2 linked regions of the Homo sapiens genome follow. The protein of the gene in region 2 interacts with the protein of the main gene of each other region in a pairwise test. Each region holds a gene or a part of one and is shown on either strand. Other genes may lie near its edges. The genes, in order: GNB5 and E2F2.

The links.
Region 1: the proteins of E2F2 (region 2) and GNB5 interact in a two-hybrid assay, tested with the Homo sapiens proteins (one large-scale study listed by BioGRID and IntAct).

Annotation. Positions count from the first base shown.
Region 1 is NC_000015.10:52,135,893-52,139,703, reverse strand, and holds part of GNB5 (guanine nucleotide-binding protein subunit beta-5), read left to right. Parts: intron 1-3,811. UniProt on the Homo sapiens protein: Enhances GTPase-activating protein (GAP) activity of regulator of G protein signaling (RGS) proteins, such as RGS7 and RGS9, hence involved in the termination of the signaling initiated by the G protein coupled receptors (GPCRs) by accelerating the GTP hydrolysis on the G-alpha subunits, thereby promoting their inactivation.
Region 2 is NC_000001.11:23,520,958-23,524,768, forward strand, and holds part of E2F2 (transcription factor E2F2), read right to left. Parts: exon of another isoform or gene 3,632-3,811; intron 3,532-3,631; coding exon 3,426-3,531; intron 1,100-3,425; coding exon 880-1,099; exon of another isoform or gene 629-879; coding exon of another isoform or gene 615-628; intron 115-614; coding exon 1-114. UniProt on the Homo sapiens protein: Transcription activator that binds DNA cooperatively with DP proteins through the E2 recognition site, 5'-TTTC[CG]CGC-3' found in the promoter region of a number of genes whose products are involved in cell cycle regulation or in DNA replication.

The sequences.
Region 1 (3,811 bases), on a different chromosome or scaffold from region 2:
GGCTCTGGAGGCAGACAGCAGGATTGGATCTTGGCTCCGCTGTGTTCTAGCTGGTGATCCTAGACAGCGTTTGAATTTCTGCGTGCTTCATTTTTCTCACCTGCACATGAGGATAGTAAAGTAGTAAATCTGTCCTGCATAAGGTTTTCTGAGGCTTAAATTAGATGATTCATGTACATAGTGTAGTCCCTGGTAAATATCAGTAAGCGTTAACTCTTATTATTTGTTTGTTTGTTTGTTTGTTTTTTGAGACAGGGTCTCACTCTAGTACCCAGGCTGGAGTACAGTGGCACAGTCTGGGCTCACTGAAGCCTCCACCACCCAGGCTCAAGTGATTCTCCTGCCTCAGCCTCCCAAGTAGCTGGTAGGCCTGTAGTGGGTCTGCAAGCACACGCCACCATGCCTGGCTAATTTTTGTATTTTTTGTAGTGATGGGGTCTTGGTGTGTTGCCCTGGCTGATCTTGAACTCCAGAGCTCAAGCAATCCACTTGCCTTTGCCTCCCAAAGTGCTGGGATTATAGGCGTGAGCCACTGCACCCAGCCAATTTTATTATTATTAACACAAAGCTTCATGGATGATGCTGATACATGGCCTAGTTTGGGTACTACTGAACTCATGAACCTCCAGCTTTCTTCAATCCCTGGGATCTAGGTTGATAAAAGAGAAACTCAAGCGGCTGGTATGAGACTATGGTATTAAACTTACAAATTCTCTGCATTCCAGAACAAATGAGTGACAATGAGTTAGGGGTTCTGTTTAATGCATTTATATGAATAAATGTTTGGTCTTTAAACTTTATTTTTACTTATATTATAATGAAGATCAGAAACACAAAATTGAAAAGTATTAGAAATCTACTTTTAACTTTTAAAAACTATTCATTTCTTTGATCAAACAGTATGGTATGAAAATTTCCTAAATTAAAGAGCAAGACTGGGGTAGTTGCTTAAAGAAAATTGTTTGGACCTGGTGTCTCAAAATAAACTGTAAGTTACTGCAAGTGTTATTAGGAAAGCAGTGAGTTGGAACAGCCACTAGTGGGTGTGGGCCAGGAGAGATTGAGGGAATTTGAGCATCCAACAAAATATGAGTACCCAAATTTCAGCCTCGGTTCAGGTTTTGTGTGTCCATAAGCTACTTTGCTAGCTTAAGTCATCTTGTTGGATGTATGCAGGCCTCCTGAGGGAAGTCAAGGCTGGAGGGGGTCCTGTGGACAGCCAGTGGGTGCAACACCAGGGCGGGAGCAGATTCCCCTCCTTGTAATTTGTTCCTTCCCTGCAAAAAAAGAAAAAAAAATGAGTTTTTTTTTTTTTTTTTTTGAGACCAAGTCTCACTCTGTTGCCCAGGCTGGAGTACAGTGGCGTGATCTCAGCTCACTGCAACCTCCGCCTCCCAGGTTCAAGCGATTCTAGTGCCTCAGCCTTCCAAGTAGCTGGGACAACAGGCGTGAGCCACTACAACTGGCTAATTTTTGTATTTTTAGTAGAGTTGGAGTTTTACCATGTTGGCCAGGCTGGTCTTGAACTCCTGACCTTGGGTGATCCGCCCACCTCAGCCTCCCAAAGTGCTGGGAAAAAAATGAGATTCTTTATGTTCAAGGCCTAACATATAAGAGAGAGGGGAAGAAAAAGGGAAAGGGGGCAAAGGGTGAGGAGGAGAGATCCCATCAGCAGCTGGAAATTGAAGGTGTGGTGTGGTCAGTGGTTGCATTGCATGCTAGCGGTGCATAAGGCCTGATTCCTCTTTTCTTTCCTCAGCCATCAGTAATCATCCGCAAAGGGCTCTCTTGTGGACACTTATGCTGCAAGAGCCACTTCCTCCACGGTCTTATCACCTCACCCAGGCCCTGTGGAGCAGCCAGAAGGCAGGGAGAGCTTCTCCCTTGCAGGTCCCCTCCATTGCTGTCAGTACCCAGCTGGCTCCAGGGCTCTGTGATGCCGCCAGCTGGGCCTATGAGGGCCCCGAACCCTGAGTCCTCACTGCCTTTCTCCCAATCCCAGGAAGGTATGCTCAGCCAGAGCCCAGGCCTCATACACACTGGCAGTGACAAAAAGTAAAATTCCAGCCCTGTCCCCATGTCTTTCCCTGGGCACCCCTGTGTGCCTTTACTCTATGGCTGACCTTTGTACTTGTAAGCTATCCAGAGGCTCTTTGGGCCTCTGCCAGAGTTTCCTAAAACATACGTTTGCTTTTCTCATTCTCCTGCCCAGAAGCTTCCAGAGTGCTCTCTTGGCTTCAGACTGAGTCCCCACCTGTGAACGGGCTCACCTTTCATTTAGTGCAGACATAGGCCCCCCTGGAGTTTGTCTCTCCCCTTCCCTTCTTTCACCTGGCCAGCTCTCACTCTTCCTTGAAGACCAACTCAGATATCACCACACTGGGTTTGGGACCCTCCTGTGTGCACACCTGGATCCCAGCACTTCTCATGCTGTTGTCATTGATCCTTGTCTACTGGTGATGTCAACTCCCCAAGCGAACATCAGAAATACTTGCAACCAAGCAAAGCTAAGGTTATCTGACCTGCCACAGTAAGGGAGAACCTCCACTTGGCAGAATCTTAGTAGGTTCTGAAAATGGAGGAATTAGGGAAGGGTACTTAGAGGATTTCAGGGTCCAGGCTTGGTGATTTTAAGGTGGGTCTTGCAAGGCCGTTTTAGCTTTGGATTGGTGAGCCCAGCAAGCGAACAGTCTTTGAGTCTGGATGAGCAAGCTGTTAATCTTGGTAAGTTGTCTAATCGATTCACAGTCTTTTCTCCCAGGAGCAGGTATTTTCTGCAGCAAGCAGTTAAGTTATTTTTACTTGGTCTCAATATGGTTTAACATAGTAACAGGAAAGTTGGCCTGGTCCCAGAATTGTTTAACACAGGGATGGGGAATTATGTTGGTTTCATTCTTACTGGCAATCCTATTAAACTGAGTTCTGGGAGAACAGAAACTGAGACACAATCTTTCTGCAAACCCTCATGCATTAGCAGAGTGCCTGGCAGACACTGTCAGCACACAGCAGATGTTTCTTGAACCTGTGTATGCGTGAATATCCTCTGGCACCCGTCAGTGGTCCTGGGAAGCCTCTGGGCAGCACTGTGCTCGGGAAAAGCAGCAACAGAGAATGTCCAACAAGATGCTGCCTAGACCCCTGCTGCTCCCAGTGTGCCCCGTGACCAGCCTCAGCATTCCCTGGGAGCCTGTGAGAAGTGTAGACGCTCAGGCCCCACCCCAGACTCTATTAGCAAGCAGCCCAGTGATGTGTATGCATCAGTATCCAAGAAGCACTTTAAGTTTTTGGCCTGCACAGCAGTGGGAGGCATCGAAGGTTTTAAACACTCAGTAGAGACTCACGGAACACTTCCTACGAGCCAGGCATGTGTAGAGCCCTGTAGGTACCACCATGAGGCCGCCAGGATTTCAGCTCTGCTGGGAGGCAGGCATATAAACACAACTCAAGGACTGTGAGGGTAGGAAATGCACTCTTTCCTTCTTTGTATAGAAGAGAGATTTCTGTGCATGAACCCAGATACAGCAGGTAGGGTGTGTGTGTGTGTGTGTGTGTGTGTGTGTGTGTGTGTGTGTGTGTGTGTGTGTGTGTGTTTTCTGCTTTTCCCTGTGTGTGTGTGTGTGTGTGTGTGTGTGTGTGTGTTCTGCTTTTCCCTGCAAAACGTTAAGCCTCTGATTGACTGCCCCCGGCATAAGCAATAACCACAACCATATAAACACAACTCAAGGACTGTGAGGGTGTAGGAAATGCACTCTTTCCTTCTTTGTATAGGAGAGAGATTTCTGTGCATGAACCCAGATACAGCAGGTAGGGT
Region 2 (3,811 bases):
CAGCTCTGGATGAGCTGGTCCAAGGCCTGCTCCGTGTTCATCAGCTCCTTCAGCTCCTGCCCCAGCTGTTGCTGCTTCCCAGGTCTGGTGGGGTCTTCAAACATTCCCCTGCCTCTGGGAACAGAGCAGCCCCCCAGTGTCAGTCTGTGGGTGAAACTCCAGAACAAGGTCATTCAAAAAATAGTCTATGAGGGTGCTTCCCTGGGTTGTGGAAATCAGTGGTCATGCCTGTCTCTCAGGGAGCTACCAGGGATTGGAACCAGAGGTTTGGGGGTTGGGCTTGGGAGAAAAAACAAGTCAAGACCTGAACCCCATTTCTGAGGGGCTCTCGACTCTGTTCATCCCTATGCCCCAGCCTCCTCCAACTGGAGTAGCCTCAGTCCTGACTCCCTCCCCTGCCTGGTTTCTCTTAGGATTTATGCCAAGGGCTATAGGTCAGCTCTTTAAACCCTGTAGAAATGGAGAGAGGAGGCTGGAGTACTCCTATCTCAGATCTGGAAGGAGTCCGGGATCCCCCTACTTAGCTCCCAGGGGACTGCCCTAAGCTAGAAGAAGTGGATATTGGGATCTCTGACTCAAGAGGAAGAATCTGAGGTTCCCTTTGGCCTTTACACCTCCCAGATGTCATTCTCCACTCTGCCCCGCATCACGTTCTCCGATTACTTCAGCAGGTACACGGCGCTCTTCCTCACCATACATTGGCTCTACCCCCAGCAATAAGCCTATTGGATGTTGCTCTTGGTCCGCCTCAGCCCTTGTGCCCATTGGATGTTGCTCTCAGCCCCGCCCCTGCCACTCACACCCACTGGCTATTGCCTCTGGCTCCGCCCACAGCACAAGTACCCATTGGAGGGTACCACTGGCCGCCCAGGCACTCACACCCACTGGATGTTGTTCTTGGCCTTCTTGCGGATGAGCTGGATGCCTTCCAGCACGTTGGTGATGTCATAGATGCGCCGCTTCTGCACGTCCAGCACCTCAGCGGCCCAGTTCAGGTCCAGGACCCCATCCTCTGACTCGCTCAGGAGGTAAATGAACTTCTTGGTGAGCAGCCCCAGCGAAGTGTCATACCGAGTCTTCTCCCCGGGGGATTTGGGGGCTGAAGAAGAAAGGGACCCAGTCACAGCTCAGGGAGGGGAGGGCCCGCCCAGGACCCTCGTCCATTGACCTAGGCTCATTAAGTACCACCTTTCACCACCCACTTTCCAGTTTACAAAGCAGTGTGAGCCAGGGCATCCATCACCACCACTGTCCAGACAGGGAACCTGATACCTAAGAGGGAAGGTGACTTGCTTAAGGTCTCACGGCCAATGGGCAGTGTTGGAAGCCTAGTGTCCTGACTCCTGGTTAAATGCACATTTCCACCACAGCTTAGGGCTGCCAGACCACCACCCACAACTACTGTCACTGTTCTAAGTGCTTTCCATGTACGAACACATTTAAGCCCTACAACACCCTGTAAGGGTTGCTGTACAATCATCCCCATTTTATAGATGAGAATACTGAGGCACAGTTTAAGTAATTTGCTCAGCTCACTCAGCTAGAAAGTGGCAAAGCTGGAATTCAAATCCAGGCAGTCTGACTCCAGAGTTTTCCTTAACCATTACCCTATCCTGCCACTTAAATGTCCGGAGTTTGGAATTAGAATAGGGTAGAAATGATAAGCCTGGATTTAAGAGCATTTTTATAGACACACACTTGCTTTTTCTTCCCATGTGAATCACAATGATTATCTGAGAAAAATCGGTCCTGTAACATCAAGTCGGGGAGGTTCATGAGAAAGGTCCCTTTCTCAATGAGGTTGATGTTGCAAGACCACATCTCAGCTGCAGCATCTTAAACCACGAGGGGACTTTTGTAATCGAGTGACTTCCAAGTCATATAGCAAGTTAGTGGCCAATCCAGTAATTCTGGAACCTGAATTTTAGAGTCTTAGGTTCCTCTGGAGGAGGACCAGTTATCATGAGCCTCAGGATCCTTCAAGACAGTGCTCTGGGCAGCCTTGACCAATCAAATGTAGAGGAAACTTTCTTGCCATTCCTGATCTAGCTGTGTCTTCTTTTACACAAGACAACTAAGGTTCACAACAACTAAGGTTCACAGGAGTGACCTGTCAGGTCGGAGCAGAATCCTACCTGGACCCCCAAAACTAGTGTTCCTCCCAAACACAGTTGCTTTAACTCCTGCTCTAACCAGGATTTTTTTTTTTTTTTGGAGATGGAGTCTCACTCTCTCTCCCAGGCTGGAGTGGAGTGCAGTGGTGCGATCTTGGCTCACTGCAACCTGCCTCCCAGGTTCAAGTGATTCTCCTGCCTTGGCCTCCTGAGTAGCTGGGATTACAGGCATGCGCCACCACACCCGGCTAATTTTTGTATTTTTAGTATAGACGGGGTTTCACCACGTTGGCCAGGCTGGTCTGGAACTCCTGACCTCAGGTTATCTGCCCACCTTGGCCTCCCAAAGTGCTGGGATTATAGGTGTGAGCCACCACGCTCAGCCTATCCAGGATATTGACTGAAAATATCAAGAGGCAGCAACCCCCTCCAACTTAGCTTTAGGAAGGCACCACCTGGGCAGCCTCTGGATCTTAAAAACCTTTGGGGTGGCAGAGACTGGATTAATCTGTGCTTCCCTTCCCTTTGAATCACTTATTCAGCTCCTTGTCTGCATGTGGGAGAAAGACCCTGGTTAGCCCCTGCTCTTCTGATTTAGAAAAATTTACCTTGACCTAAACATTAAAACGTTTTAAAAATAATAAATTCCCAAATAAAACACTGGTCATTGAGTTTAGATCATGAGAGCAGTACATGGTATGGTAGAAGTAGTGCGAGACTGGCCAGGCATGGTGGCTCACGCCTGTAATCCCACCACTTTGGGAGGCCGAGGCGGGTGGATCATTTGAGGTCAGGAGTTTAAGACCAGCCTGGCCAACATGGTGAAACTGTGTCTCTACTAAAAATACAAAAATTAGGCAGGGATGGTGGCATGTACCTGTAGTCCCAGCTACCTGGGAGGCTGAGGTGAGAGAGTTGCTTGAACCCCAGAGGTGGAGGTTGCAGGGAGCCAAGATGGCACCACTGCAATCCACATTTGGTGACAGAGCGAGACCTGTCTCACAACAACAACAACAACAACAACAACAACAACAAAAAAAAACACAGAAGTAATGCAAGATTTACATGTCCAGGCTCTAGTCCTGACTCCACTCTGAGACTATGGGCAAGTCACTCAAGCTCTCTGAGTCTCAAGTTGCCTGATTAGTAAAGACAGACAAGCCTACCTACCTGGCAGGATCAAATAATAAAATACGCAGGAAGCTTTTGTAAACTGGAAAGTGATCCAAATATGACTACCAGTGATTGGGCAGGGCACTGCCCTCTGCCCCTGCCCCACCCCACCCCAGAGGCCCCATCAGCACTGCTTACTTTTGGGGCTGGGGAGGCCATCCACTCTGATGCACTTCCCCTTGGGGGTTGGGAACTCAGGGACGACGGGCCTCCCAATCCCCTCCAGATCCAGCTTCCTTTTGGCCTTGGAGAAAAGGGGGAGAGAGAGGCAGAGTTTGAGAATCATTCCTCCTTTAGCCTTTCCCTGATGTGGGGCCAAAGCAATGAAGCCACTTAGCAGCCACCTCTGTGCCTCAGTTTACCGCCAGTCCTGGTGAAGCACTGCTGTACTTGATAGGAAAACATCAGTGACCTGAGAAGTGAGCTTTCAGGGGAAATCTTGTTTTCTGAAGGGCAAATAAAACTCCCATCCTCTGAGGCCCAGGCACTTGAGACCCTACCAAAGCCAGTCTGGCCAAGGGCTC